Homo sapiens: one gene and its partners. The protein of the gene in region 1 purifies or fractionates together with the protein of each later gene. This does not show direct contact. Each region holds a gene or a part of one and is shown on either strand. Other genes may lie near its edges. The genes, in order: VAMP4, NAPA, STX8 and STX12.

Region 1 (9,391 bases):
GTCCCAAGTGCGGCGATTGCAGGCATGAGCAACCACGCCCGGATGGTTTTTCTTCTATTATTCACAAAGGGAATGAAAACATATTTTGAATCTTTTGTTTTTAAAGCTTAAGATTCCGAACTTACCCTTTCACTTTTCACAGAACCTGTGACATCATCATCATTGAGGTGGCGCTTAAACTTGGGAGGCATATTTTTTACTTGCAAAGTATCTTTTGCTTCTCAACAGGATAGTCACCACCTTAAAGAGAAAATAAATTTCATCAGATTTGAGACTTTGGGGCATAAGCTAATGTACTTAAAACAGTGTACATGAAACCCTGTATGACAGGGACTCCCTCATTTTTCTGACTTCAATTCCTGCCCTCTCACTTGTTCCACTCCAGTGACTGGGGCCTCCATGCTAGACCTCAACACCTAAGAAATAGTTAAAATTATGAGAAAATGGATGTAATTGCCCTAAGAGAACATGTGTAGGATATGAGTGATTTAAGATTTTTATAAAATGAAAGAGCAGAGAGTAGAGGGAGGACGTCTCACTGAGACATTAAATGCTTTACAATTTAAAGTTGGAGTCAGAAGACAGGAGAACATGCCTATTTCTCTCACTTTTAGTTGGTTGCTTAAGCAATGATTCAGTTTCCTCAGGTGTAAAATACTGATTTTCAGGCTTCTGCAGAGTTGGGACGGTCAAATTGGATAATACATGCAAAAATATTCTGCAAACTATAATGTCCCATTGGTACTCCATGAAAAGGGGTAAGTTTGGTAAGTACTGGTGTGATATCGTGATTTACAAAATATACTCATTTGGTCTTAATCCCCATTTCCTGACATATCCTTGGAATCGCTGCAGTGATGTGTCTTGTGTATGCTAATAAGATGACTGGTAGCTTAGCCCCCAGATAGATTCCAGATGGAGGCTGGTCACAGAAAAACCTAGGCATGATTAGAAGACTGGGACTTTACAGCCCCACCCCCTAGCTTCCTGGAAGGGGAGGAGGGCTCAAGGTTGAACTGATTTCTAATAGCCAATGATGTAATCAATCATGCCTACTAAGGAAGACTCCATAAAACCCAAAAAGGACAGGGTTCAGAGAGCTTCCCAAAAGCTGAACAAGTAGAGAGTTCCTGGACGGTGGCACACCTGGAGAGGGCACAGAAGCTCTGTACCCCTTGCCCTATGCACCTCTTCCATCTGGCTGTTGATCTCTATCCTTTATAATAAACCAGTAAACAAAGTGTTTCTCTTAATTCTGTAAGCCACTCTAGCAAATAAACTGAACACAAGGAAGGGATTGTGGGAACTCTGATTTATAGCCAGTCAGTTGGAAACACAGGTAAAACAACCTGGAACTTGTGATTGGCACCTGAAGTGGGGGGAATCTTGTAGGATTAAGCCCTCAACCTGCAGGATCTGATGCTATCTCTAGGTATACAGTATCAGAATTGAATTAGAGGACACCCAGCTGGAGAATCTGCTGCAGAATTTCCTCCTTGCTTGTGAGGAGAAATCTTTTGGGGGTCTGTGTTGAGAGAGAATAGGAGAAACTCAATTTTTTTCTATCAAAACAACTGGATTAAACAAAGCTAGTTTTCTTTGCTACAGAATGACTCACATCCTGTTATATGCTAATATGCATTGTGACTTTCCAGGAAAATGCTTGTGTATGCAACATACTAAAATTTTTTTTTGCGAAAAAGTTCTTCTATGCAAATAATGAATTTTCAGTATTTTTGACTAGATGGTAGATGAATACCCATCAATTCAGGATAGCTCAGAAATACTGAATGTTTTACTATGTGCTAGGCACGGTGCTCAGTGATACACATGCATTTTCTTTTACTCTTTATGATGCTTCTTTAAAGTAGGCACCAAGAAACTAGGAGAAAACTAAAGTTTAGTAACGATAACGTTAGTCACTACATTCATTGAAACAGCAGAGATACAGGCCTAAATTAATCAATGGCTGTGCATTATCAGTTTTAATCATTTGTTCAATTAGTTGCCCATCAGGTTTACAGAATTCTGTTCTAGAAAGACTCACTTCCTGCTAACAACCCAATAGTCCTGCTTCCTTTTCCATAAGAAGAAACACTTAGACCTTTAAATTAGGTATAGTTAGACATCAGTTTGTTTGTTAATGATATACACTTAAAAAAGAATAATCCCAGGATCTGGCTTCACGAACCAAATAAAAGTAATGTTTTAAGTCAGCTGCTTGTCAAAACCAAAGGACACACTTTTCTTTGATAAGAAATGCTTCCAAATCAGAAATTATTCACTTGTAACAAAAACCAAATTCTTGCTGCCTGAGTAACAGCTCTTGAGTTCTTGGTTCCACAATATTTCTGTCACATACATCTGGCCCTTTTATTCCTCATACTTTGATGTCAGAATACTTCATTCATGCAGAAATGTAACAGAATGCATGGAAAAACAGATGACAAGGCAAATTACTGAAGAACTTGTGCTTTTAACTATTATCTGTATTTAGATTTTAACCCCTGCAATGAGGCTGCCTCAACATCCCAAAGCAAACAACGGGCAGACTTATATAATGCCTTTATAAGACATACAGTAAAACTACAATCTTAAGGATGAGCAAACACCATATTCAGGTCTCTTAATCCCAAGAAACCATGTGCAACAAATAGCCCATCAGCAAAGCAGTAGGCAGATTAATTAGCTACCTTGATGAACTTTGATGTTATTTGCAACTGATTATTAGTAACTGATATGTGTATCAAACAACTAGTAGAAATAAATCATGCTCAGAAAGTAGACTAGGATATAGTCTGCCTAAGATTTCTCCTACAAAAAAAGACATGTGAATTCAGCTGTTTGTGACTAGGTATACATGTAAATAAGAGAGCCATCATGTACTTCCACATTGAGGATAGACCACCACTATACAATTCACTCAAATGAGTCACATCACCGTATGCTTCTTATACATCAGCATATACTTAAATGTCTATGTGTGCGTTTTTGTAAGTAGTACGTTATCTAGTCAATAGCTTTGAATCTGGGCAAAGGCTCTCCTTTTCCCAGCCTCCATTCTCTTTCTGATTCGTCTTCCTTGTCTGTCATCAGCCTTCTTGCTTGATGCAGTTTCACAGAAATAAAGTGACTTGGATGGACACAGACCGGAGATATTATTTGCAAAACCTGTCAAGTGTAACGATTCACCCCCACCTTCCGGTCATTATAAACACAGCAGGGTTGGCGCTCTTTCCCCCGGGCCCTTTAAATACACAATTTCAGGCAGCTCCGTTCACCCCCCACACCCAATCTGTCACACCAGGCCACGTCCCACGATATATCTGCTCCTAACGCTGGCCCTTCCTGCCCCATTGTACCCCCTGGAATTCCTCACTACATCCCACTCTTAACAAACCTTCCCCATCCATGGTACTGTTCTCTTCCCATCACCCCAGAGTACCCCTCAATTCCAATTCTTCTCTCCCTCAACTGCTCCTCGTCCGCATACCCCTGTCCTCGTCTTCCTTCCTCACGGCACCCCCGGCCCCAACCTTTTCCCACTCCGGGGTCCCTTCCTAGATCCCCGAGGCCCGCCGACCAGCCCGACTAGGACGTCGGGGGGCGGCAAGGCAGGGGCGTCTTCTTCGTTTCCTTCCTCCTCACACCAGCCCCTCCCGCTGCGAACAGGCCAGCGCCAGTACCTGAGGCTCCCGGGGAACTCCCGGCAGCTCTCCCGGGCTGGCGGTGCTGGGCGGGCGGGGGAAGGAGTAGGAAGCCGAGGTAAGAAGCTGGGAGGGGGAGACAGTTGGTGCGGACCCGGCGTCGGCCGCAGCGCCGCAGCAGCGCCTCCGCTCATCGAGCCGATCGGCGCTCGGCGGCCTGGCGCCAGGCGGAGGGGGCGGGTCCAGGGCACGGAGATAATCGAGGAAGTCGATCCGCCGAGCCCTATTCACCTAAAAGAGCCCGAACCCACACGCAGTTTAGATGCATCTCTCCAAATTTATGCTGTGCTTTAGGGGAGGAACAACCACTGGTTGTCCACGTTCCGGTCGTGATCCGGCGTGCGTGGAGGGCGATTAGGGGAGGAGTGGGAAACTTCCGAGAACCGCTCGGGACTGGGCGCCGCGCCGGAGTGCGTGGCTGGGGTGATGAGGCGTTAGAAAGAAGGTGGTGCTTGGTGGCACATCCGTCCCTCTGGCTGACTACGTTGAGTGGCAAGTGGAGAGTGGCTCGCAGCTCGAGGACCTGCTTCGGGTTCGTCTGGGGCCTTTTCTGAAGAAAGGAGATCTGTTTGATCCCCTGTTTACAGAATTAGAGCTAGACTTGGAAAGAGATGTTAAGGCCAGGCTCCTCCCTTTAGATAGGAGGAATATCTGGTTCAGAGAGGAGATTGACTTAAAGTTAACACGGCTAGTTTAGATAGATACGGGACGAGGGCTCGGTGTTCTTTTCCCGGTATCCCTTAGTTGTAACCTGAAAGCCTTCAGGAAATCGCCCTCGCCAGGCCATTCCGCCACTCTGCCCATTCCTTCCTCACTCCCTCCCCCTCCGCCCAATTTGGTATCATGTTTAGATCTCCACGCCCGCAGTAGCTGTCTACCAGAAACAATTCCTAATTTTGTTTTTCCGTTCTCTTATTTGTTTTATTATCCGTTCCTCCCACGCCCCAGCTGGATTATTTTACTCATTGAATCATATTCACTACACATCTTTTAAAATTAATACAGTATCTATGGGTCCTTTGTTGATACAGTATTTTAACTGTCTGAAATACTGTGCCAGGCACTTTCTAAAGACATAAAAATAAGAGGGGGTGTTCAAGAACAAGAGTAGACAAGAAAACAGCAGGAGGAAAGATCTGCGGACACTAAAGGAAAGGAAAGAATAGACACCCTCTTACCAAAAAGTTGTTCTTCTTTTGTTTGATGTTTATTTTTATGTAAAAATGTACTAACGAATTTGAAAGATGCCATGACTAAGGCAACGATGCTCCACTCTGATTCACTTGGAGTTGAATCACTTGGAAAGCTTTTAAAACTACGTAGGTGCCCACGTGCTACCTAGATTCTGATTTAAATGTTCTGAGATTTAGAAACAGCCGTTGAGTTGTCAGTTGAAGGTTCTGAAAGCTTAATGCTAAACTCAGTTGCCTGTGTTTATTCAGTCCAAGTTGCTGTCCAAGTCAGCAACTTGGACTGAAACGGCCCACTTAGAAGAGAAGCCTCTCATGGTTTGTATCCCTGTCTAGGTGTGATAGTGGGTCTACCCCCAGACTCCACAGGTAACCCTGACATTATTTTTTCTTCTACAGCTGATCTTTTTTTTTTTTTTGAGATGAAGTCTCACTTCTTCCCCCAGGCTGGAGTGCAGTGACACAATCATAGCGCACAGCAGCTCTGAACTCCTGAGCTAAAGTGATCTTCCTGCCTCTGCCTCCCAAGTAGCTGGGATTACAGGCATGAGCAGCTGTGCCCAGCACTTACAGTTGATTTTATGTCTGTATATTTGCATGTTATGGGCTATTTTCTGGCTTTGGTGCCTTAGCCAATTAGAGTTTAGCTAGTTATAGCCTCATCTCTTAGACAACTTAAGGTGTGGTCAGTGAGCTCTAACAGGCACGTCATTGCATAGCTTTTACAGATAATCCATTCTTTGGGTTTTTTTGTTTTTTAAACATAATTCTTTAGTCCTGCCAGTCATTTTGGAATGATCGCTTAGGAGAGGGGTAATGCAAGCCCCACCCTTAATCACCTGAACAAAGTCCCTTTGACTAACCCCAATATTTGTGAAACTTAGAAAATGTCATTTTACAGTTAACATGAATCAAATATACCAGTAAGCCTAAAAGATTATAATAGCACTGAGCTTAGAGTCAGAACTCCAAGCAACTTGAGTTACTTATTTCCTCCATTTTCTTTTTAGTGAGCTTCAGTTATTCAGATGTTAGTCCTCTAATTTTCTTTTCCCCTTTTTCAACATGACACCTTCATCCTTAAGAGGGCCTGCTGTCCTCCTAGCTAGAGAATCAGCGTTTTGCTGTCTTTCAGGACTAAATCTCTGGGTTTTTGATGGGATAGCAAAGGGAATCTCAGCATCTGATTCATTCTTAAACAGACTTTATACCATTCCGCCTGTATTTATAGCTCACATCATGCTCTCTTCAGCTTTACGTGGTGTTTCCAATTCCTGAGCCTTATACAGGGTTTCACTGTGTGTATCAGGTTGCTTCATGGCCTGCTTGGGATTCCTACTTTTCAAGTCTGCTAAGGCAATTGCATCTTGATTCATCTCCCTTCTAGCTTTCAATATTTTGTTGCTAAATGTTCAACATTACTTAAAATGTAAAAGTGAACAAGGAAATACCATTTTTCATCTATCAGTGACTGAGAAAGAAGGAGTTGAGCAGAAGATCTGCAATCCAGTCTCTCCCTTCGTAGGGAAATACTCTCAGGAAAGCAAGGTTAAAGCAAGCAAAAAAGCATGTGATTTTTATAAAATATAAAGTATATACTAATTACAGACCTCCTGGCAAACAAACTAATGGCATTTGCTAGCAAGAGAGTCCATATTTACGGAATTCCTCTAACAGGATGTCCCAGGGCTGGGATTGTTTATGGTAAACACATTAAGAATCGATGTGGTAATTCCAGCACTTTGGGAGGCTGAGGCAGGTGGATCACTTGAGGTCAGGAGTTACCAGCCTGGCCAACATGGCAAAACCCCGTCTCTACCAAAACTACAAAAATTAGCTGAGTGTGGTGGTGTACACTTGTAACACCAGCTACTCAGGAGGCTGAGGCAGAAGAATAGCTTGCACTGGAGATGCGGAGGTTGCAGTGAGCAGAGATCGCGCCACCGCCCTCCATCCTGGTCAACAGAATGAGACTCCCTCTCACAAAACAAAAAAGAATCAATGCGGATTTCAGGGGTATGATTAACTGGAAAATACCGCGGAAGTTATGTAACGTAGCATAAAATGGAAGTGTTTTGTAACTGATTTGGCTCCTTCTGTGTAAGTGGGGTGACTGTACACTTGATTTAGAAACCACATCTACTGTCCTGGGCCAGGATGCATCCAAAGCAAGAAGAAAGGACCTGGGGATTACTGGTATCCTTGAAACTATTAGTAAAGCTTGATACTGAGTAAAATCTCTGATTTGAGCCTGATTTGACAGTTTGATCTTTTGTGTTAGCTCAATAGCAAAAATAAAAAAAATTTGATACTACAATATTGGGTGTGTGTATGTGTGGTATGGGAGCAGCGTGGGAGGAACAAGCATTCTTAAACAGTAAGAGTATAAAAATTGGTGCATTTTTAAAAATTTCATGGTAATTATATGTATCAAAATTTTATATGAAGTTCTTTTTGATCTAATAATTTTACTTCTAAAATTTATCCCATGGGTATACAGGTTGTATATAAAAGTATTCTATAAAAATATCTGTTACAGGATTTTTGTAACAGAGTGAAAAAAAAAACTCTAAATGTTCAGCAATAGGAAATTGCTGAAATGAGTCATAGTCTAGCCATTCAATAGAATAGTATGCAGCCATTAAAATGAACTAGATAGATCTATATGTGCTGACATGGAATACCTCTATGATGCTATAAGGTGAGAAAAGTAAGGTGCAAAATAGTGTGTAGACTCTACTTCCATTTGAGCATCACACACACACACACACACACACACACACACACACCAGGAGGACTGTGAATCTGGCATGGAAAGTGTTATGGACTGAATTATGTCCCCTCAAAATTCATATGTTGAAGTCTTAACTTCCAGTGTGACTAGATTTGGAGATAGGGCCTTTAGGACAATAATTAAGGTTAAATGAAATCAAAAAGGCAAAACCCTAATCCTGTAGGGCTAGTGTCTGAGTGCATGGGCACAGAGAAGAGGCCATATGAGAACACAGAAGATGGCCATTTGCAGTCCAGAAAGAGAGGCCACACCATAAGCCAACCCTGATGACTCCTTGATCCTGGACTTTTAGCCTCTAGGACTGTGAGAAAATAAATTTCTGTAGTTAAGCCACCTAGTCCATGGTATTTCATTATAGCAGCCCTAGAAGACTAATACAGAAGGGAAACTTTCTTGATGTGTAGTGTTTTGTACTATTGGAATATCTTTACCATGTATATCAGTTTTTCAATTAAAACAATGGTAGAGGCACTCTCTTCCCCTAAAATTGGGACCACTGGACCAGTTAATTTAAAAAGTCAGTTACAGTGGTACATATTTAAAAATGGCAAATATATACTTTAGTCATTTTATTTTGACTCAAATGTATATGTTCACTCACCAGTCTTGGTAGTAGGCCCAAGACCTTTTATCTGAGCATGAATTTGCTGGTTGGAACACCTGCTTTGTCTTTGTTACAAGTTGCATTGTTTACAGTTTACAGTTTCATTTTCTTCAAAGTGGAATAAGAAGTTAAAGACACCTTTCAAGCAATTTGAATGCCCAGTCAGTCTAGATTTTTGTACAATTTTTTCTCCAAAGTTTTACAGGTTTGTCTTACCTGTGCCTAGTTCTATAGTAATTTTTGTTTGTTGTTCATGTTTATCAATTTAGTTTTTATAGAAAATAACTTTCTATTTGTATTTCATTAGTTTACATATTTAAATATATTCTATAAGTATAATAGGCATAAATACTTTGGAGTACAAATGCAAATTGACTCTTGTAAGCATGTAACTCAATTAGTTTGGAGAAGAAGTATACAGATATCATGTAGTTAACCATAAGCTTTTCATGCTTAGAGTGCCTTGGTGTTATATAAATATGATATTAGTTTATTTTAGTTTTGATTTTGAATGCTTTTAAATCCTCTATCCAGATTCATTAATAACGCTTTTCTAATGCTGACCTCAACTCCTAAATGGATTTCATGACAGTGTGAATAAAAACAAAATAGTTCAGCCCTCTTTTTGTCTCCAGGTAGATGAAGAAACAGAGTGCCAGAGAGTTTACGTGGTTTGTTAACATTTCACTAAGTTTGCTTTATTACTTCTCTTTAAATTTATATCTCCCCTCGGCATGCATTATTTGAAAATTAGTTATAGCTATCATGCCTCTTTACCCCTAAATACTTCATTAGATATCTCCTAAGAACAAGAACATTGTCTTCATAACTGTAATTCAGTTGTCAAATTCAGAAAATTTAACATTGATACAATATTATTTTCTATCAAAGCATCCATATCAAAGTTTGCCAGCCGTCTCAGTTATGTCCTTTGCAATGTGAGTATAGTCTACAGAGAAAATAGTAATGAGTAACAAAGCAAGAGGAATTTAGTTTTTAAAGATAAGTTCAACTATAGTTTAATTATTTTTAATATATATAATAATATGGGAAATGCCCTGATGCCTTCCTCATGAAACTTTAGATGTGACATTAT
Region 2 (5,273 bases), on another chromosome or scaffold:
CCAATCCTAGCTGCACACTTGAACTGCCTATGAAGTTTTAACAAAACAAACCAAAACAGGCCGGGCCTGGTGGCTCATGCCTGTAATTCCAGAACTTTGGAAGCTGAGGCAGGCGGATCAACTGAGGTCAGGAGTTTGAGACCAGCCTGGCCAACATGGTGAAACGCTGTCTCTGCTAAAAATACAAAAATTAGCTGGGCGTGGTGGCGCACGCTTGTAATCCCAGCTACTCGGGAGACTGAGGCAGGAGAATCGCTTGAACCCGGGAGGCAGAGGTTGCAGTGAACCAAGATCGCACCACTGCACTCCAGCCTGGGCGATAGAGCGAGACTCTGTCTCAAAAAAAAAACAAACCCAAAAACCCCCAAAGGGTAGGAAACCTCAGTCAAACCACAATTTATCAGAGTGCGGCCCCAGTCTGGATACTTTTATTTTTGCACCATCATGCCTAATTTTTGTATTTCTAGCAGAGACAGGGTTTTGCCATGTTGGCTAGGCTGCTCTCGAACTCTTGACCTCAAGTGATCCGCCTGCCTCGGCCTCCCAAAGTGCTACGATTACAGGCATGAGCCACAGCACCCAGCCCCAAGTCTGGATACTTTTAATGACTTTAAAGCATAGCCAGGGCGGACCATCACTGATTTAGGTCATGGATGACAGAAACAGATTCTCACACTATCCTTCAGCCAGCACCCATGATGGGGGCAGACATGGTAATCAATTTCAGGTCTCAGAAGTCTTTGCTGCCATTATCAGTGGACTGGAGCTGTGGGAGAAGCTGCAGGGGAGAGAGGAGCAGGGCAGGTGTCAAGGAATTTGAACCTCACCTGCACTTCTCTAGGCTTTCTGGGCTGGAGCCCCTCTCCCAGGAGTCCACCCTGGTTTCCTAGGCAGCCCCTCCTCTGTGCAATTACTGCCCCTGCTCACTTCCTGACATTTTCCCATCATGCCTGGGCACTGAGCCTCCTTCAGCTGTCTCCTCTGTAGCGAGGGGCCCTGCGCGGGGCAGGGTAAAGCACATGTGTACCAGACAGGGCCCCCAACATGCACATTGTGGAGTGTGGTGGAGGCAGCTGGTTTCTGCCCACCTTTCCTGGGCAAAGGCTCCTGCTATCTCCTCCCCCACTCCCCAGACCCACTCGGGCCTCAGACTCTGCCCACCAAAGCCGCTTCCTCCCCCGTCCTGTGACAGATGGAACAACTGTCACCGGGGCGTTCAGCCTTCCTGCCAGAGAAATGTGGACATGGGAGATTCGGTGGGCTTCCACCCATTCTCATCCAAAGCAGTCATGAGGACCGTCACATTCGACCCTCCCACTGGCTCTGAGGGGTGGCATCACCACCGTGCATCCCAGTTGAGGAAATCAAGGCCCCTGGACCCCAAGAACCCAGAGAAAGATCAAGATGGGCGCTCTGGGACTCCCAAGCCAGAGCTCCTCCCCAGGCCCACCGTCCCTGGGTCTCCCCCACCTAGAAACTGACCCAGCCCACACGTGTTTCAAGGATGCATGCGCCTGACCTCCCAAGAGCTCGCCCAGAGTCTGGGGGACCAGGAGTGTGAGAGGGACTGGTGACTGGCCCAGGGGCAGAGTGGGTAGCAGAGGTGAGGAGGAAGAGAGACTCATGCAAAAGTGTTGTTTTTTATTTTCTTTCTTGGGCCAGCTGCAGCTTCCAACCAAGAAAACCTCAAAGCATTAGGGAAGGAGCAGGTGTGGGGCTGGGGTGGGGAGAATCCCCTAAGCTCCAGGGCCCAGGGTCTAACCTGAGAGGTCGGGGCTGCAGGAAGCTGGGGGAGGCTCCCGGGGCTGGGGGAAGAGGAGCCTGCCCCCAGCAGAAACAGCAGGTCTCAGCGGCTACATGTGCTTTAGAGCTTGGCTGGGGGACAAAAGTGGGAGAGAGAGAGAAACCGGCCTCATGACTCAGCTGGTCAGGAGATAGGGGGCCAGATGCTGACCCCAAATCCCCGGCAGCACCCCTAGCAAATAGGTCTGTATCAAAGATTCTGTACAGCTGGTTTTGGGGGTGAAGGGCACCTATGGGGGCTTAAATAAATGGACAGGGGGCAAGGGATGTAGCGAGAACAGAGGGTGACTGTCCGGCCAGCAGCCTGGGCCTCTGGCGCCCCTGCATGCTGACCCCCGGTGCCACCTGCCCACTGTGGCCCGCGGCACTCCCCAGATGGGAAAGGAGGGAAGCTCTCCAGCAAGTCTCGGCCCCACCTCTCTCTGAGCAGATGGGACAGGAAGACGGGCACTGGGGGGCTGGGTGGGGCTTAGCGCAGGTCCTCCTCATCGCCCTGGATGGTCTTCTTGATGCGCAGCAGCATGGTGGTGAGCCACTGGTCCAGCCGGGAGATGGAGTCGTATTCCTTCACCTGAGGGCACACCAGGTGATAGGCTGGCCATGCTCCCCCCGTTCCCAACCCTGCAGCCCAAGGGCACTTGTCCCAAGGTTTTCAAGATCTGTCTCTGTCACCCCTGGTCTCTGAGGAGGAGTAGAGGGAGGGCTTGAGGCCCCAACTCAGCCATGGGAGCTCCCTCTTGTCTGTCTTGACTATGCTGGGCACATCATTTCCCTTGGGGGAGAAAGATATTGTAGCTTTAAAAAAAAAAAAAGGTCCATGGCTGGGCGCAGTAGCTCACGCCTGTAATACCAGCACTTTGGGAGGCTGAGGCGGGCGGATCACGAGGTCAGGAGATTGAGACCATCCTGGCTAACAGTGAAACCCCGTCTCTACTAAAAATACAAAAAATTAGCCAGGCGTGGTGGTGGGCGCCTGTAGTCCCAGCTACTCGGGAGGCTGAGGCAGGAGAATGGCGTGAACCCGGGAGGCGGGGCTTGCAGTGAGCCGAGATCACGCCACTGCACTCCAGCCTGGGCGACAGAGCGAGACTCCGTCTCAAAAAAAAAAAAAAAAGTCCAGCATCCTCACTGAATGGGTGGGAAACTGAGGCCTGGAGATATGGAAAAGGCCACTCCTGAGTGCCATGGGACACGGGGGAGAGAAGCCACGGCCTGCTGGGCATCCCCTCCCTGAGCTCCTGGCTGAGTTGCCACCCACTGTCTGGGGCAGGAGGAACAGGATGGCATTTTCACTGTCCTCAGTTAGGGGCTTCCATTCCCAAGGGGCACCTAGGGAGAAATGCTTGACATGTGCCATTAGAGGAGTGAATCAGGACCTGAGCCGGACACCACTAAGCCCGGGAATGCTGGGAACAGAGAAAGGGAAGGGAGAGAGAGCCGCGTGGGCGGCTCCACCAGGCAGAGGGAAGCTGGCACCTCTCCCATGTCCTCAGCTCCACTCTCCTTCTCACCCCTTCCCTCCCCGTCTGTGCCTCCTGGGTGCCCAAGGCGCCCACTGTGAGTCTCACACACTCACCTGGGGGACTCAAGGAACCCTGGTCTTCAGAGGCAGACAGATGTGGCTCTGAACACCAGCTCTGTCCCTGAGGGGCCAAGGCCGAGCCTCCTGACCTCCCCAACCTCAGTGCCACCATCTATAAAATGGGGAGAACACTCCCTGCGCCTCTTGGCGCTACTTGTAAGGTTTCTGGGGTGACTGGAGAAAGAACTTCACAGTGGGCTGGGGGCCAGATGAAATGGGTGAATGTCATGGAGAGCGTGTCTGAGAAGGGCAGCTTTCCTAGGAGACCCATCCCCGTGAAGGGGCCTGGCCCCCCATGCTGGCCACTCACCGACTCGGTGTAGCTGTCCACATTCTGCTCCTCGTGGGCCTCTAGCAATTTCTGCAAGCAAATGGCAGAGAGGGGTCAGGGGCCTATGCTGACCTGAGGTCTGGCCTGGATTAGATGAAAGGACACGCTATCTGTATGCCAGGCCTGGGGCTGGGGCTTCCTGAGGACTCTCAGAGGGTCAATCCGTGTGGGTTAAACTGGGGATGGGTACGGGCGTGTTGCGATCCTGCTGCCCTATTCATCAGAAACGGCTTGCTCTCAGGGCAACCTTACCAACATAGAACATCACACAGAATGTGTGTGTGTGTGGGTATGGGGGGTGTGTGTGTTGGGTGTGGTGTGTGGTGGAGGTGTGTGTGTGTGTGGTGTGTGTGTTGGGGTGTGGTGTGTAGGGGCACGTGTGGTGTTTGGTGTGTGTTGAGTTGCGTGTGTGGTGTGTTCGGTGTGTGTGTGGGGTGTGTGTGGTGTGTGTAGTGTGTGTGCAATGTGTGTGTGTGGGGTGTGTCATGTGTGGTGTGTGTGCAGTGTGTTTTGTGTGTGGGGGGGTGTGTCGTGTGGTGTGTGTACTGTGCAATGTGTTTTGTGTGAGGGGTGTGTCGTGTGTGTGTAGTGTGTGTGCGATATGTGTGGTGTGTGATGTGTTTGCTGTGTGTGGTGTGTGTGTAGTGTGTGTGGGGTGTGTGGGGTGGTGTGTGTGTAGCGTGTGGTGTGATGTGTGTGGTGTGGTGTGATGTGTGTGGTGTGGTGTGTGTAGTGTATGTTTGGTGTGTGTGGTGTGGTGTGATGTGTGTGGTGTGGTGTGTGTAGTGTATGTTTGGTGTGTGTGGTGTGGTGTGGTGTGTGTAGTGTGTGTGTGTGTGTCCACCTAGCCATCCTGAGCTCCAGCACTCCCCGAGTTGTACTTTCTTCATCTGGAAAATGGAGACTCAAATGGCCAAACAAAACAAAACAAAACAAAACAAAACAAAGACACCCTCTGAGAACTACTGGACAAGTCTTGGCGATTGTCCCACCTGGAGCCCCAGCCACCCCCGTCTGAGGTTCGGGAAGGGGGAGGCCGGAGCACCCAGCACTTACTTTCATCAACTTGCATTCCCGGGAATCAGAGAAAGCTGGGAACAGCTCCTCATACTTTTGGACAGCCAGCTGGGCAGCAGGGAAGGGAGAAGATGAGTTAGTAACAAGAGGGTCCTCAGAGCTACTGGCCTAGCAGCTGAGGGGACTTGGGGATGTCGGGTGATATTGAGTCAGCTCTTGCACCCCTCCCCCAGCCTCAGGTGTCACCTGGCTCTGTGTCTGTCAGTACCTTCCCGTAGCTGAGCTCAGCACCAGCCTGGCTGCAGAGATGGCTGCAGGGAGAGGTGGGTGGAGGGGGAAGGTTCCCCAGATAGGCACCCACTGCCTCCTCCCACCTGGCTCAGCTGGGGCAGGGGACAAATGAGCACATCCTCCATGCCAGGCCTGGGGCTGGTGCTTCTTGAGGACCCTGAGAGGGTCAAATGACGGTGAGCCCCCTTTTCAAAGTGAGGAAACAGATCCAGAGAGGGGCAGTGACCTGCCCAGGGCACGGTGAGACAT
Region 3 (8,508 bases), on another chromosome or scaffold:
AAGGTTTAACTGTAATTTTTCTGGAAATGGTACATCATCAACAAATTAGTTACCCTGGAGGTAAAGCTAATTAACATTAGCAAAGAGCCAGTTCAGAGACAGTGATCATGGGCTCCTTCTGTTAAACAGCGAGCTTACCACTTGCTTTGATAGGCCATTAAAATAGTAACTGCTATATTCCATTGCTAGACACTGAGGGAGGTGCCAATGACCTATGATTTTAGCAACACAAAGGTAAAGCTGTAGTTGAATCTGTTTTTATAGGTTGTTTTTGTTTGTTTGTTTTGTTTTGTTTTGACATGGAGTCTCGCTCTGTCGCCCAGGCTGAAGTGCAGTGGCGCAATCTCGGCTCACTGCAACCTCCACCTCCTGGGTTCAAGTGATTCTCCTGCCTCAGCCTCCTGAGTAGCTGGGATTACAGGTACACACCAACATGCCCAGCTAATTTTTGCGTTTTTAGTAGAGACGGGGTTTCACCATGTTGGTCAGGCTGGTCTCGAACTCCTGACCTTATGATCCGCCTGCCTCAGCCTCCCAAAGTGCTAGGATTACAGGTGTGAGCCACCACACCTGGCCTTTTATAGGTTTTTCAAGTCCCTTCCCATACTCCTTTCTACCCCCCTAATCAGCGACCCATTTTGTGCTTTGGGAGCACAGCTGAGTGTCTCACTGTTTCACTCTCAATAGTCCAATGAGAAAGCCACTTCATCAAACTAATGAAGTATAACAGAAAAAGTCTCAATGCTTTATCAACATTAACTGCGGAAGAAGCTTGGGGTCCAGTGATAGCTTCCACCAATCTAAATAGATAACTGGGGGCCTGTCCCTTATCTTTGACCTTTATTTCCTACTTGATTTGTAAACTGAGGGATTTAGGTTCCAGAAGGTGGAGGGCAACTTAGGAATATGTATTGTAAACCAAAATAAAATTCTAAGCCCACCCCCAACACCCCCCCCCACCCCCGCAACCATCTGAACGGACCCCTACTCTAAGGCAAGGGCATTCCAAAGTTAACCTGAAACACTGGTTCAGGCCATGATGGGAAGAGGGGATCAGACATGCCTCATTATATATCCTCTCCTCCTTTTTGGAATTCAGGAAAAGCCAACCAGCATTAACGTCAATACAGACCTTAAGTCTGATAAGAAACACTTACAATGTATTCTCTCTAAAGCCTGCTACCCAGAGGCTTCATTTGCATAATAAAATCTTGGTCTCCACTACCCCTTATCATAACCCAGACATTCGTTTCTATTGATAATAACTCAACCAATTGCCAATCAGAAAATTTTTCAATCTACTTATGACCTGGAAGCCCCCCACGCCCTTCGAGGTGTCCCTCCCTTCTGGATTGAGCCATCATAAATCTTACATGTATTAATTCATGTATTATTCTCCCTAAATTGTATAAAAGCAAGCTGTTCCCCAACCACCTTGGGCACAGGTCTTCAGAACCTCCTGAGGCTGTGTCATGGGTGCATTCTTAACCTTGGCAAAATAAACTTTCTAAATTGACTGAGACCTGTCTCAGATACTTTGGGGTTCACAGTATCAAGGGCCTTAAAAATGTTTATACCCTTGAGCCCAACAGTTCTATTTCACTTTCAACAGTCTAATGAGAAAGCCACTTAGTCAAACTGATTGAGAATAACAAAAAAAGTATAAATGCTTCACTTTCAACAGTTCTAATTCCTACTTCTAGACAGGGAGCCCAAGGAAATAAGAGATAGAACAAAGGGACTCCCTTTGCAATGATAAAACAAAACAAAACATCAGAAAAACAAAAAACTAATAGGAGAAAAATAAATTATGGTCATTCATGTGATGCATTATTTTGCAACATAAGACAATTATGAGGCCAGGTGCGGTGGCTCACACCTGTAATCCCAGCACTTTGGGAGGCCAAGGCGGGCAGATTGCCTGAGCTCAGGAGTTCAAGATCAGCCTAGGCAACACGGTAAAACCCTGTCTCTACTAAAATACAAAAAATTAGCTGGGCGTGGCTGCGTGCGCCTGTAGTCCCAGCTACTCCAGAGGCTGAGGCAGGAGAGTTGCTTAAGCCCAGGAGGTGGAGGTTGCAGTGAGCCATGATCGCGCCATTGCACTCCAGCCTGGGTGACAGACAGAGCAAGACTCCGTCTCAAAAAAAAAAAAAAGAAGAAAAGAAAGTTATGCTTTCAAAGAATGTCCAATGACATAGAGAAATGCTGTTTATATTATATATATATATAAAAATATAGATTAAAATAACAAATTCATTGTAAAAAAATCATTAATGGCTATTTCCAAATTATAGAGTTAAAGATGCTATTTATTTTCCTTTTTGCAAATTTTCAATATTCTCTAAATTGAATATTCTCTATCAAGGGGTGTATATAACTGTTAAAATTAGGGATTTTGGGGTTTTTTATTTTTTTTTGAGACGGAGTTTCGCTCGTGTTGCCCAGGCTGGAGTGCAATGGCACGATCTCAGCTCACCACAACCTACACCTCCCGGGTTCAAGCGATTCTCCTGCCTCAGTCTCCCGAGTAGCTGGGATTACAGGCATGTACTACCATGCCCGGCTAATTTTGTATTTTTAGTAGAGACGGGGTTTCTCCATGTTGGTCAGGCTGGTCTCGACCTCCCGACCTCAGGTGATCTGCCTGCCTCGGCCTCCCAAAGTACTGGGATTACAGGCGTGAGCCACCACCGCGTCCGGCCTAAAATTAGGTTTAAAAAAGTAAATGCTAAATTAAATAATTGGCCCAAATAACCTAGATTCCAGGTAACTCAACTTTGTTCTTGGAATCCATTCTTCTAATATCCAGGATGTGGGCAACTTAAACAATTATAAACTATATTAGAAATAACAACATAAGACACATATTCCAACAAGAACGTTATAGAGCTGTAATATGTTTTTAATTATTAAGCAGAAAGGTCAAGTCTATGTTCAATAACAATACGTTCCTTGGGATCAAACAATATGTTCCTTGGGATCAAAAGTTGCATCTTTCATCATGCAGTCCTTGGGATTAACTGCTAAATAAATCACCCTTATCAGCTATTGTTTTACTGCAGAAGCTACTGCTAAAGGAAAAGACTTCATGATATTAACTCAAGAAAGTGCAAAATGCCTTATAAACAAGTGCACAATTTCCCTCCCAGGTTCCTGTATCTGGAAGGGCCCCCAAGATCTAGGTCTTAGCCCCAGCTGGTTACTAACTGGCTGGTGGCCATGGATTCTGAACCTCGGTTTCTCCACCTGTGAAATAAGGGGGTTTACCGGGATGGACTGACATGCTACAAAAACGTTATTTCGACTTCACTTTTATAGGAGTCCAGGGAAGCCTGCACCAGCCAGCTAGCTCCAAAACCAGGATGGGCGGGAAATCCCCGCAACGAGATGCAGCCCAGAAAAGCTAAAGGAATATTCAGAGATTTGGCGTAAGTCCTCAGCTCTCCAGCGGACCACCTGGTCTCCTTCCCGGGCCACCCTTGCAAGGACCAAGTGTGGCGGGATGTGGCTGAGCCCCCTCAGTAAAGGAAAGGTCTCGCTGCCCCTCCCCTCATCCCGAAAGGCCACCAGCGGCAATGCGAAGTGATTGCCTGCTCTCCGGAAGCCCGGCCTCCCCGAAGGTCCCTCCACGCACCGCCGCCCTCACCCGGGACTCACCAGGGGTCCGGTGCCATCCTGCAGACTCCGCCCGCCGCTCGGACTCTTCCTGCTCTTAGCAGCTGACTACGGCGGCCCGCGCGGCTCACTCCCCGCAGTTCGTCCCGTGCGCGACCGGAGCCTGGAGTTTGCAAAGTGAGTAGCTAGGGCCTCAGAACTATAATCAGAGAAAGCAAAGCGCTCCCCTGCGGACAGTACACTGGAGCAATCTACTCCCACCAAGAGACGCGAACTGCTAAGCTCAGTTAAAATTGTTAAATAGAAACAAAGCATTTTCCCAGGAAGGTGGGAGCGCTGCAAGACCTCTCTGTAGCAGTTACTTAAAAATTTATCCTGCTTCAAAAACAAAACAATAAACAAAACACTAGATTGCGGTGAGACTTGCACGCTGCGTAAACTCACTACAACCTACTTTAAGTTAACTTTATGATATGTAAATTATACCTCAACGCTTTTTAAAAAATCTTTAAAATTTTTTTCACACTGCTCCAAACAGGGGCCCAAAGAAGTATCAATTATATATATTTTTTATAGCAGCCTTCCTATCAGTCCTGTACGCCTGATTACATATTTTTTAAATGCCATTCATTCGGTGCTTGATTTTAGAGTTACTAAGAAGTCACAGACTCTACACAAGGGGATGGAGGAATTAGTTCTGCGCAGTTAGTGCCATCCCCTAAATTTCCAGAGAAATAGCACAAAAAAAAAGAAGAGGAGTCCCACCCCATCTCTCTTCCAGTCCCCATACCCCTTCATTTCCAAGAATGCTAATGAACTCGAACTCGGCAGGCTGGGTTTCTGCGCGGGCGTGGAGCTGGAGCGCATGCGCTCGTCCGTTACCATAACGACCAGAAGACGCTGCAGCCACTAGGGAGGAGAGCAAAGTAATCAGAACCTCCCAAGGATGGATAACAAAATTTCGCCGGAGGCCCAAGTGGCGGAGCTGGAACTTGACGCCGTGATCGGCTTCAATGGTGAGGCCTCCAGCATCTTTGGGCTGGCTGGTTTAGGAATTCGGAGGACGTGTAGTGCAAACAGGAATAGTGAGACACCGGGGACACCTGAAAGGCAGTGTGGGACAACGGCAGGAGCCCTGGCCAGGGACACGCACAGGAGGACCCGCACAGCCTGACCTGCCCCAAGGCCTTGGAGAGTCACTTCCTCGATCCAAGCCTCAGGGAGTGAGATGGTTTTTACCAGCTCGGACAAGCGCCAGCACCTAAAAGGGACCAAATGCCTCTTCCCCAGGCGGGCCGGATGAGTACGGGTGGTTGTAACCCTTCTCCCACTAGGTCAGCCCTTCCTGGCTCTGAACCCCACGCCGCTCGCAAAGCCCTAGGCTCCTTCGTAACCACACAGAAGGATGCTGTCTGTGTCGGCCCCTGGGACCAGCTAGGAAATCTGCTAAAATCCCAACTGGCGTACCAGTGAGAAAGGGCTGGGAGGGAACGTGTGTTTGAGCAACCCCCTGAGGGGATGTTGTTGGTCCTCTAATCCTAAGGAAGGTTTCTAAATGATGAGGATTTCAGACCAGGACAGAAGGGGAAGGGGACGCCAGGGGGAGCTAAAGCGGAGAGAAAAAGGGACTGGGCCGCTCCGCTGAAATCTTATTTGTGACTGCCTATTGTTTTGAAGATTCTGGGAAGAAAAAGCTGTGGGGTTTTATTGTTCGTTTTGAGGGGTTTTGGTTTTTTGAGGGATGAGAAAACAATGAATTAGATTTTAGGAGAAGCAAAACTTTTCAAAAATGTGTGTTGTGATGCCTGAAAGCTTTAAGAATGTGGATGCAGAACAATCACTGTCTAAAGTTTTAAGCATACTCTAGGACTTAGCTCTTGACTCTTGGTTTAACTTTAACAGTCTCCAATAGAAAGTGAGTGCTTTATACATTTCGGATATCAGATATCTTGAGAGTTGGTTACAAGATCATTGAGAAACAATTGAGCAGCCTACAGTGGGTTGCATAATGTCACTTGTTGAGCCAATGTAGAACCACACACATAGAACTCTGCAACTGAGGCCGGGGGCAGTGGCTCATGCCTGTAATCCCAGCGCTTTGGGAGGCCAAGGCAGGTAGATCACCTGAGGTCAGGAGTTCGAGACCATCCTGTCCAACATGGTGAAATCCCATCTATACTAAAAATACAAAAATTATCCGGGCGTGGTGGTAGGTGCCTGTAATCCCAGCTACTTGAGAGGCTGAGGGAGGAGAATCACTTGAACTTGGGAGGCAGAGGTTGCAGTGAGCCAAGGTCACGCCACTGCACTCCAGCCTGGGGGACAGAGCGAGACTCCGTCTCAAAAAATAAATAAATAAATAAACAAACAAACATACATATTCAACAGGTTATAGGAGGAGCTATGAATACTCATGAAGGTGGTCCCAACACATGTGTATTGAACAAACATTGATGTAATATATCACTCATATTCACCTTGGGATGGAGACCTAACATTTAAATGTATTACAATTAGGTCCTATATGTCAAAAGGCCTTTTCAGGACATGACGGCACGTTAAGTGGGAAGCCTCAGTAAACTGGCCAGAGGTAGTCCGTGGTGAGTGGTCTTCTTGCCAGGAGAACATTACTGAAATCACTCTGTTGTCCAATCAAAATTGTTCTTATGGCGGGTTGAACAGGGCTTCAGTTAGTAAGTGCCTATGAACTGGACAGGTTGCAGTTGTTTTCATATTGCTTATCTCAAGATAAGTGCTTGTTTAGCTGCCAGAGAAAAAGAAAAACCTTGTGGCAGTGTATAGTTTATTTTATTTATTTATTTTGAGACGGTGGAGTCTCGCTCTGTTGTGTAATGGCACAATCTCGGCTCACTGCAACCTCCACCTCCTGGATTCAAGCTATTCTCCTGCCTCAGCCTCCAGAGTAGCTGGGATTATAAGCACCCACCACCACGCCTGGCTAATTTTTGTATTCTTAGTAGAGACGGGGTTTCACCAAGTTGGCCAGACTAGTCTCCAATTCCTGACCTCAGGTGATCCACCCGCCTTGGCCTCCCAAAGTGCTGGGATTACAGGCTTGAGCCACCACACCCAGCCACAGGGTGGAGGGGTGCATGGCCTTAGGTCCTGTTTATAATTTGATATCTTATTGCCACACAGTCTGTCAATCTTATGATCTCTATTTTAACATTAATGCTGATCAGTTGTGTCTAAACCACAAAAGAGAGGGGGTATAATGAGGCATGTCTGACCTCCCATTCCGTCAAGGCTGGGAACTCTGCTTTAAGGTGTTTTGGGGGTCCCTTTGTCCAAAAGGGGATCTGTTCAGTCAGTGGCTGGGGTGGGGCAGCGTGGGGATTGGGGAGCTTATGATTTTATTTTTAGTTTACAAAAGTGATTGAGTTTTCTGTATTTTGTCTTCACTGAAAAATGTTTATTTTAAAAAACTATACTAGCTCTAAAAAAAAGAGGGAGAGAGAGAAAAGACAGAACTTTCATAAGGCTCGGGAGAGAAGATTTTGACTAGGAGTCAGCGGGTAAAGATTGAAGGCAGAATATTTCGGGTTACAGCAATAGCGGGGGGCAGAGGAGGAAAAGTGGAGAGTGCAGGGCCTGGTTGCAGAACGGCAAATAGCTTGGGGTGGCTTCAGTATCAGGGACTGGCAGGATAACACAGGAAAGAGAAGCTGGAATTAGATTTCAGAGGCCTTAAATGCCAAGTGATTGAGTTTAGATTTCAGATGGAAACAAATTAGAAACAAAAGCAAGGCCCCTTTTTTCACTGCAACACTGAAACTCACTATAGTGTTACATTATTCAACTTGAATTTTGTTTTTGAGATGGAGTCTCACCCTGTCTCCCAGGCTGGAGTGCAGTGGTGCGATCTCAGCTCACTGCAACCTCTGCCTCATGGGTTCAAGTGATTCTCCTGCCTCAGCCTCCCAAGTAGCTGGGATTACAGGTATCCACCACCACGCCTGGCTAATTTTTGTATTTTTAATAGACACGGTGTTTCGCCACGTTGGCCAGGCTGGTCTTGAACTCCTGACCTCAGGTGATCCACCCGCCTCGGCCTCCCAAAGTGCTGGGATTACAGGCGTGAGCCACTGCGACTGGCCTTAAACTTGAATTTTAACTTTATGGTATCAATATGTAACTGTACTTGACACTTGTAGGTATTGCATTTTGGCAGGAATTAATTATTTAAGCAAACCAAATATACTTGTGTTAAAAACATTTAATAAAGTTATAGTTATTAAGGGTTTGGTCACATTCATCCATTGACTGGAGTAGGTAGCCCATGATTTTCCTATTATGGTATACAAAGAGTTCTTGTAAACTAAAAACAGCAACAACAACAAAATAGATCAGGAGTCTACAAACTATAGCCCATGGGCCAAATCTGGCCCACTGCCTGTTTTTGTAAATAAAGTTTTATTGGAATGTAGCTATGCCCATTTGTTTATGTATTGTCTATGGCTGCTTTTATACCACACTAGCAGAGATGAGTAGTCTCAAGAGACCATATTGCCCACAAAGCCTAAAATATTTACTCTCTGGACCTTTCTTAAAAAAAAAAAAAAAAAGCCAGACCCTGTAAATAGGTAAATAAATATAAATGGCTATTAGCTCAAAAAGCTTAAAAATGCTATTAAAGTTCATGTGCGGTGGCTCACACCTGTAATCCCAGCACTTTGGGAGGTTGAGGCAGGAAGATTCCTTGAGGCCAGGAGTTTGAGACCAGCCTGGGCAACATGGTGAAACCCTATCTCTATAAAAAATACCAAAAAATAGCCAGGCATGGCGATGCATGCCTGTAGTCCCAGCTATTCGAGAGGCTGAGGTGGGAGGATCACCTGAGCCCGGGAGGTAGAGGCTGCAGTGAGCCAT
Region 4 (8,412 bases), about 140 Mb from region 1:
GCACCTCAAAGGCTTGGGGACTCTGTCTTACTTAGTTTTGTATCTCTAGCACGAAGAGGACGTTATTTAAACATTGTAGGGGTGAAGTATGATTTATGATACTGATGGGAAAACACATAATAATGGAAAATTTCAAAGTGTTTTATATCTAGTATAATAAGTAATATGTTTTCCTTTTAAATGCTTGAAAATAAAGAGGCGTTGGGGCATGGTGGCTCAAGCCTGTAATCCCAGCACTTTGGGAGGCCGAGGCGGGTGGATCACCTGAGGTCAGGAGTTCGAGACCAGCCTGGCCAACATGGTGAAACCCCATCTCTACTAAAATACAAAAATGAGCTGAGTGTAGAGGCAGGTGCCTATAATCCCCACTACTCTCGAGGCTGAGGCAGGAGAATCTCTTGAACCCGGGGGGCGGAGTGAAGTAAGCGCCACTTCACTCCGGCCTGGATGAAAGAGCGAAACTCCGTCTCAAAAAAAAAAAAAAAAGCCAGGCATGGTGGCTCAAGCCTGTAATCACAGCACTTTGGCAGGTTGAGGCAGGAGGATAGCTTAAAGCCAGGAGTTTGAGACCAGCCTGGGCAACAAAGCAAGACCCCCATTTCTAAAAAGAATTTTTTAAAAAGTGTTATAACATTTCACTAGCTTTCTGTTAAGAGGGTTTTTTATGGATTGTTTTTTAATAGAGATGAGGGTTTTGCTATGTTAGCCAGGTTGGTCTTGAACTCCTGGCCTCAAGCAGTCCTCCTGCCTCGGCCTCCCAAAGTGCTAGGATTACAGGCATGAGCCACCGCGCCTGGCCTGTTAAGAGGTATTTAACCCAAAGCATAACCCCAAGGAAATTTTGGAAAACTAGGAGATGTGATTCTGTTGAACTAACTGGCAAAGCACTGATAGGTCACTTAGCTTGCTCTTCTCCACCCACTTAGTACTGAAGGTACTAATGCAGCTTGCACTTTGAGAGTGCCCTGGAAGATGATGGTGCAACATAATTCAATGAGTTCAAATCTCTGGCTACTTTCCTTGTCTGGCAAGCCCCAGTGAGATTACAGAGTATACCCCTAAATGGAAACAGCCAGGAGTCCCATCCGTCATAATTCTGCCACATGTCAGCTTTGCCCATGGAAGCTGAGTCTTTGTTTTCCTGATATCATCAGCTCTTTGCTTCTGGATATGAAGAATGTGGCCCTCCAAGACTTTATTGATAGCAGAGGACTGGAGCCCTGGTAATGTCTTTGCATAGGTTCTGCTGGCAGTAGAGATGTTGGAGATATGTCTTGTTATGCCTTTGAGAGGAGAAATCACCTAGTGTGCCTGTTTCCCTGCAGCCATGAGGAGTGGAACCAGATGCAGAGCCAGGAGGATGAGGTGGCCATCACTGAGCAGGATTTGGAACTTATTAAAGAAAGAGAAACGGCAATTCGGCAGCTGGAGGTGAGAGCCACGTCATGTTTTTTGTTTGACTCAGTGTGTCTGCAGGTATCTGAACTCCTTAGTTCACTTTAATTCTCTTAGTGATTATGAAAAGGCATAAAATGTGTCATTGTGTGATTTGTATTTTTTCTGTCTCAGTGTAATCATGGTGGGTTTGAACTACCGGTTTTTTTTGTTTTTTTTTTTATCTTGGATGGAATTTCGCTCTTGTTGCCCAGGCTGGAGTGCAGTGGTGTGATCTTGGCTCACTGCAACCTCTGCCTCCTGGGTTCGAGCGATTCTCCTGCCTCAGACTCTCGAGTAGCTGGGATTACAGGCATGTGCCACCACGCCCAGCTAATTTTGTATTTTTAGTAGAGACGGGGTTTCTCCATGTTGGTCAGGCTGGTCTTGAACTCACGACCTCAGGTGATCCACCCTCATCGGCCTCCCAAAGTGCTGGGATTACAGGCGTGAGTCACCGCTCCTGGCATGAACTACTGTTATAATGGCATTGGCCTTGGTGCCCAGGAGTACTCAAATCCTTTCCTCAATCACCACATCTTATACGGATCACCACATCTTATTTCTCCTGGAGAAATGTACATGGAGAACAGAACAAGGCAGACAGATATTTTATTGCTCATTAGAACTTTGACCTCAAATCTCAATGCCAACCTCCGGGTTAGGCAGGACTCCATGGAGAGCCCCTTTGCTTAGTCTGAAGAGCCCAGAATAAAGGCAGGCCAAAAGTCTTGCTCCATTTTTGTATATCCTAAAGTCTAATCCCAAGTTGTACATCTTATCCCTTCAGTGAGTCAGAGAAATAGGAACAGTTTTTGAGGTGGAGGTTGAGGGAGAAGTCTGTAGGCCTTTCTTACCTAACTGAGCTTTCAACTTTAATTTTGCACAGTGACTAATAAAATATCCTTTTTTTTTTTTTTCCGAGACTAAGTCTTGCTCTGTCGCCCAGGCAGGAGTGCAATGACACTATCTCAGCTTACTGCAGCCTCCCTCTCCTGGGTTCAAGTGATTCTCCTGCCTCAGCCTCCTGAATAGCCGAGACTACCAGTACGCACCACCACACTCGGCTAATTTTTGTATTTTTAGTAGAGACAGGGTTTTGCCATTTTGGCCAGGCTGGTCTTGAACTTCTGACCTCAAGTGATCTGCCTGCTTCAGCCTCCCAAAGTGCTGGGATTACTGGCATGAACCACTGTGCCCAGCTAAAATATCCTTAAACCTGAGTTTTCTCCAGTTTAGTTTTCTCCGAAGGTAGAAGGCTGCCATTGCTGGGATCAGGGGAGGAGAAAAGGAGAGAGGGAAATTTTGAGCTCTTCCTTGGCCTCCATCTGTAGCAGTGGTTCTGAACTGTGAGTGCACATGAGGATCACCTGGAGAAGATTTTTTTTTAATGCCCCAGCTCTCATCCACCACTAATTACCTGATGGGATAATGTGAAATTCCTGTTTATTATATGTTAAAAATGGGCAAATATCCATTATTTTATATGGTTCAAACTAATAAATCATAATTTCTGGGCGTGAGGCCCTGGGCATGGGTATTTTTTTAAAAAGTTCCCCCAGGTGATTATAATATGCAGCCAGGGTTGAGACCCACTGCCCTAAAGGCCATCAATGTCTGTTTTTATCTATTTATTATTTATTTTTTGAGTCAGAGTCTTACTCTGTCACCCAGGCAGGAGTGCAGTGGCGCGTTCTTGGCTCACTGCAACCTCCACTTCCTGGGTTCAAGCGATTCTCCTGCCTCAGCCTCCTGAGTAGCAAAGATTATAGGTGCCCGCCACCACTCCTGGCTAATTTTTGTATTTTTAGTAGAGACGAGGTTTTGCCATTTTGGCCAGGCTGGTCTTGTCTGTTTTTAGATGGGATAGTTTATCCTTAAGTTATGATTATTTTATTGCCTTCAAAAATGTCATATCTTTACTCTTTTTCACCTACTGCTACTACTAATTGAATTAATTGTCTAACATTAGAAATATGGCTAAGTGCAATGGCTCATGCCTGTAATCCCGGCAAGTTGGAGGCTGAGGCAGGATGATTGCTTGAGCCCAGGAATTCAAGACAGCCTGGGCAGTGTAGCAAGACCTTACCTCTACAAAAAATAAAAAATTAACCGGGTGCTGTAACATGTACCTGTGGTCCCAGCTACTCAGGAGCCTGAGGCAGAAGATCACTTGAGCCCAGGAGATCAAGGCTGCAGTGAGCCATGATCGTGCCACTGCAATCCAGCCTGGGCAACAGAGCAAGACTCTGTCTCAAATAATAATAATAATCCTTCCTTCAAAGAAAAATTACTAGCCGGGCGCGGTGGCTCATGCCTGTAATCCCAGCACTTTGGGAGGCTGAGGCGAGTGGCTCACCTGAGGTCTGGAGTTCAAGACCAGCCTGACCAACATGGTAAAACCCCGTGTCTACTAAAAACACAAAAAATTAGCCGGGTGTGGTGGTGCATGCCTGTAATTCCAGCTACTGGGGAGGCTGAGGCAGGAGAAGTGCTTGAACCTGGGAGGCGGAGGTTGCAGTGAGCAATTGCACTCCAGCCTGGCAACAGAGCGAGACTCTGTCTCAAAAAAAAAAAAAAAAATACAGTTGGCCCTCGATATATTTAGGTTTCACATCCTCAGACTCAAGCAACCGTGGAGTGAAAATATTTAAAAAAAACTAAAAAATAATACAACAATAAAAAATAATACAAATGTAAAAACCAATACAGTGTAACAGTATTTTATATAACACATTGTATTAGTTCAGTACATTACTAATACAATGTAAGTGCTATGTAAAATAGTAATGTAGTATAAAATAGTAATGTAACATTATATAAGTAATATAGAGATGATTTAGAATATAGGAGAGAATGGGCACAAGTTATATGCAAATACTATGCCATTTTATATCAGTGACTTAGAGGGAGGGAGTCCTGGAACCAATCCCCCACGGATACCAAGGGACGAATGTACCGTTATAGCAAAGTGGAGTGAGACATATGGAGCTAAGGAAAGAAATGTAATGGATGCCAGGGTATAATGGATCATTTCATATTCAACAGAGGAAAGTCCAAATTCCTTAGCCTAGGTTCAATTTTCGTATCTAGTAATTTCCAAACTCTGACATACACATTCTATGTTATGGCAAAGCTAGGTTATTTGCTCTTTAACTGAGTTGCCTTTCTGTTCATATGACCTCTCCTTTGCTTTAAGGCACAACTCATGTCTTACCTCTTCTGCAGAGTCTTCCTTTTCTCCACACCTTTCTATACCATTAATTCAGCCATTTCCTATATAGTACTCTTCCTTCTTATTTATTTTATTGTGCACTTATTCCCCACGTCCACCCCAGTTAGCTGTATTCACAGCAACTAGCAGACTACCCCAACTATGGTAGACTCTTAGCAAGTGATTGAAATGCTGACAAGACTTGCTTTAGCAGATAGTCCACTATAGTAGACTCTTAGCAAGTGATTGAAATGCTTGCCAGGTTATGATTCCAATAACCCTTCAAACCTGGAAGGGAATTGCCCTCAAATTTCCATAGGGTCATGCCCCATATGAGCACCCCTTTAATAAGACAGGTTTCCATTGTCTTTCTTCTGCCTGATCATGAGTCAGAAAAACTCAAATATAGGCCAGACGTGGTGGTTCACACCTGTAATCCCAGCACTTTGGGAGGCCGAGGCAGGCGGATCAGTTGAGGTCAGGAATTCGAGACCAGCCTGGCCAATGTGGTGAAACTCTGTCTCTACTAAAAATACAAAAATTAGGGCCGGGCACAGTACAAGCTCACGCCTGTAATCCCAGCACTTTGGGAGGCCAAAGTGGGTGGATCACCTGAGGTCAGGAGTTCGAGACCAGCCTGACCAACATGGTGAAACCCCATCTCTACTAAATATAAAGAATTAGCCAGGCATGGTGGTACATCCTGTAATCCCAGGTACCTGGGAGGCTGAGGCAGGAGAATTGCTTGAACCCAGGAGGCGGAAGTTGCAGTGAGCCGAGATTGCACCATTGCACTCCAGCCTAGCAACAAGAGTGAAACTCTACCTCAGAAAAAAAAAATAGCCGGGCGTGGTGGTGCACGACTGTAATCCCATCTACTGGGGAGGATGAGGCAGGAGAATCACTCAAACCCAGGGGATGGAGGTTGCAGGGAGTTGAGATTGTGCCACTGCACTCCAGCCTGGATGACAGAGCAAGACTCTGTCTCAAAAAAAACAAGTAATAAATAAAAATAAATAAAAAGAAAGAAGGGACGGAGGCTGGGCGCGGTGGATCATGCCTGTAATCCCAGCATTTTGGGAGGCCGAGGCAGGCGGATCAGGAAGGAAGGGAGGGAGGGAGGGATAGAGAGAGAAGGGAGGGAGGGAGGGAGGCCAGGCACAGTGACTCATGCCTGTAATCCCAGCACTTTGGGAGGCCAAGGCAGTGGATCACGATGTCAGGAGTTCAAGACCAGCCTGGCCAACATGGTGAAACCCCGTCTCTACTAAAAATAAAAAATTATCCGGGCGTGGTGGCATGGGCCTGTAATCCCAGCTACTCAGGAGGCTGAGGCAGGTGAATTGCTTGAATCCGGGAGGTGGAGGTTGCAGTGAGACGAGATTGTGCCACTGCACTCCAGCCTGGGTGACAGAGCAAGACTCTGTCTCAAAAAAAAAAGAAAGAGAAAGGAAGGAAAGAGAGAGGAGAAAGAAGGAAGGGAGGGAGGGAAAAAAGGAAGGAAGGGGAGGGAGGAAGGAAAGGAAAGGGAAGGGAGAGAGAGAGAAGGAAGGAAAGAGAGGGAGGGAGGAAGGAAGGAAGGAAAGAAGGAAGGAAAGAAAAGGAAGAAAAAAGAAAGGGAGGGAGAGAAGGAGGGAGGGAGGGAGAAAGACCCAAATATAGGGGATTTTGCCAATGTTAAATTCTTCCACTGCTGTTAGGAAAACAAGCTGCAGTTCAGCCCACTGAGCTGATTTGTGTTTACCTTCTTTGATCAGAGCAGTAAATAGGTTGTAGTCCATTCACTTTGGAACTGCTATCCACAGACCATCAGCTTTTTGTCAGTCAGTTGGGAGTTACCATAGGGCATTGTCCAGTGATGACAGAATCCAGCAACTCCTCACACAGTTCCAGAGTCAATCCCAGGGGAAAAGAGGCTCCTTACTTGTAGCTCCTCCTTGCATTCCTCAGATAGCATGATCTTGTATAAACATTTAAATTCTGTAGTCCAAAGTCCCAGTGGTTGTCATCGGGAGGCACTCAACAGGCTTTTGTCACAAGGCCTAGCAGTCTCCACATAGGGCTATCACACCAAGAATTTGTCTATATCAGCACTCCAGCCTTCTGCTGTACTGTTTGGACTTGGGCGCTCTTACTGGTTCTCATGTAGCATGTCCCATTAATGTTGCTTGAAGAGTGAGTTTATGTGCCTTCTGTTTTACAATATTGGGTAGGCAGCAATAGATTATTTTCTGTTTATGGAGAAAGCATGCTTTGTAGAGCCTTAAAAACACACGTGTTAATAGCTAAAACTTTAGGTACGTGAGGGAAACAAATCTTCTAACATGTTGCTTAATGTTAGTTAATTGTTTTTTGTCTTCCTTAGGCTGACATTTTGGATGTCAATCAGATATTTAAAGATTTGGCCATGATGATCCATGACCAGGGTGATCTGATTGGTATGTATTATTGATACCTTTAACCTCAAGGTGAGTTGATAGTATTTGGCATGCATCTGTAATCCCAGCTACTCAGAAGGCTGAGGCTGAAGCACCATCTAGGAGTTTGAAGCCAACCTGGGCAACATAATGAGAATTTGTCTCTTAAAAAAGAAAGAAAGAAAGAAAAAGGAGTTAGGCTAGGCGTGGTGGCTCAGGCCTGTAATCCCAGCACTTTGGGAAGCCCAAGCGGGCAGATCATGAGGTCAGGAGATGGAGACCATCCTGGCTCACACGGTGAAACCCGTCTCTACTAAAAATACAAAAAATTAGCTACGCCTGGTGGCATGCACCTGTAGTCCCAGCTACTCGGGAGGCTGAGGCAGGAGAATCCCTTGAACCCAGGAGGTGGAGGTTGCAGTGAGCCGAGATTGCGCCACTGTATTCCAGCCTGGGTGACAGAATGAGACTTCGTCTCAATTAAAAAAAAAAAAAAAATGGAGTTAGTCATATCAGCTATAGAGTTAAAGTATGTTTAGGAATGCCGTTTTAAAAATTACCAAATTTATTTTTCGTAGCAATTTTTTTATGTTATCAAATGTAGAAGTTAAATGAGGCCTCATGAATACTCAGTCCCATTGACTTCTTTGTACATCTTTGTTTAGAGAAATAGCTCTCAGCTTCCCAGCTTTTATCTCAACAAACTTGCAAAATTATGGGGTTAGTAACCCTTTTTTTTTTTTTGAGACGGAGTTTTGCTGTTGTTGCCCAGGCTGGAGTGCGATGGTGCGATCTTGGCTCACCACAACCTCCGCCTCCTGGGTTCAAACAATTCTGCTGCCTCAGCCTCCCGAGTAGCTGGGATTACAAGCATGTGCCACCACGCCCGCTAATTTTGTAGTTTTAGTAGAGACGGGGTTTCTCCATGTTGGTCAGGCTGGTCTTGAACTCTCGACCTCAGGTGATCTGCCCGCCTTGGCCTCCCAGGTGGTGGGATTACAGGCGTGAGCCACCACGCCTGGCCAGTAACTCTTTTTTTTAAAGCTTTCTATGTGGAAATAATTTCGAGTTTATTAAAAGTTGCAAAAATAGGCTGGGCATGGTTGCTCACGCTTGTAATCCCAGCACTTTGGGAGGCTGAGGTGGGAGGATCACTTGAAGCCAGGAGTTCAAGACTAGCCTAGGCAACATAGTAAGACCCTGTCTTTACCAAAAAATTAGCCAGGCATAGTAACATGCACCTGTAGTCCTAGCTACTCAGGAGGCTGAGGTGGGAAGATCACTTGAACCCAGGAGTTGGAGGCTACGGTGAACTATTATTGTACCACTGCACTCCAGTCTAGGTGA

Evidence for each region.
Region 2: the proteins of VAMP4 (region 1) and NAPA purify together in Homo sapiens (affinity purification with mass spectrometry; 4 studies listed by BioGRID and IntAct, with this or other methods). This does not show direct contact.
Region 3: the proteins of VAMP4 (region 1) and STX8 purify together in Homo sapiens (co-immunoprecipitation; 4 studies listed by BioGRID and IntAct, with this or other methods). This does not show direct contact.
Region 4: the proteins of VAMP4 (region 1) and STX12 purify together in Homo sapiens (affinity purification with mass spectrometry; 5 studies listed by BioGRID and IntAct, with this or other methods). This does not show direct contact.

The regions. Positions count from the first base shown.
Region 1 is NC_000001.11:171,738,224-171,747,614, forward strand, and holds the start of VAMP4 (vesicle-associated membrane protein 4), read right to left. Parts: upstream 3,843-9,391; 5' UTR 3,687-3,842; intron 241-3,686; 5' UTR 192-240; coding exon 126-191; intron 1-125. UniProt on the Homo sapiens protein: Involved in the pathway that functions to remove an inhibitor (probably synaptotagmin-4) of calcium-triggered exocytosis during the maturation of secretory granules.
Region 2 is NC_000019.10:47,486,016-47,491,288, forward strand, and holds the end of NAPA (alpha-soluble NSF attachment protein), read right to left. Parts: intron 4,842-5,273; coding exon 4,773-4,841; intron 3,747-4,772; coding exon 3,696-3,746; intron 2,375-3,695; coding exon 2,273-2,374; 3' UTR 1,622-2,272; downstream 1-1,621. UniProt on the Homo sapiens protein: Required for vesicular transport between the endoplasmic reticulum and the Golgi apparatus. Together with GNA12 promotes CDH5 localization to plasma membrane.
Region 3 is NC_000017.11:9,572,132-9,580,639, forward strand, and holds the start of STX8 (syntaxin-8), read right to left. Parts: upstream 3,690-8,508; 5' UTR 3,678-3,689; coding exon 3,661-3,677; intron 1-3,660. Other genes in the region: CFAP52 (cilia- and flagella-associated protein 52), read left to right, coding at 4,565-4,634. UniProt on the Homo sapiens protein: Vesicle trafficking protein that functions in the early secretory pathway, possibly by mediating retrograde transport from cis-Golgi membranes to the ER.
Region 4 is NC_000001.11:27,810,838-27,819,249, forward strand, and holds part of STX12 (syntaxin-12), read left to right. Parts: intron 1-1,325; coding exon 1,326-1,431; intron 1,432-7,013; coding exon 7,014-7,086; intron 7,087-8,412. UniProt on the Homo sapiens protein: SNARE promoting fusion of transport vesicles with target membranes. Together with SNARE STX6, promotes movement of vesicles from endosomes to the cell membrane, and may therefore function in the endocytic recycling pathway.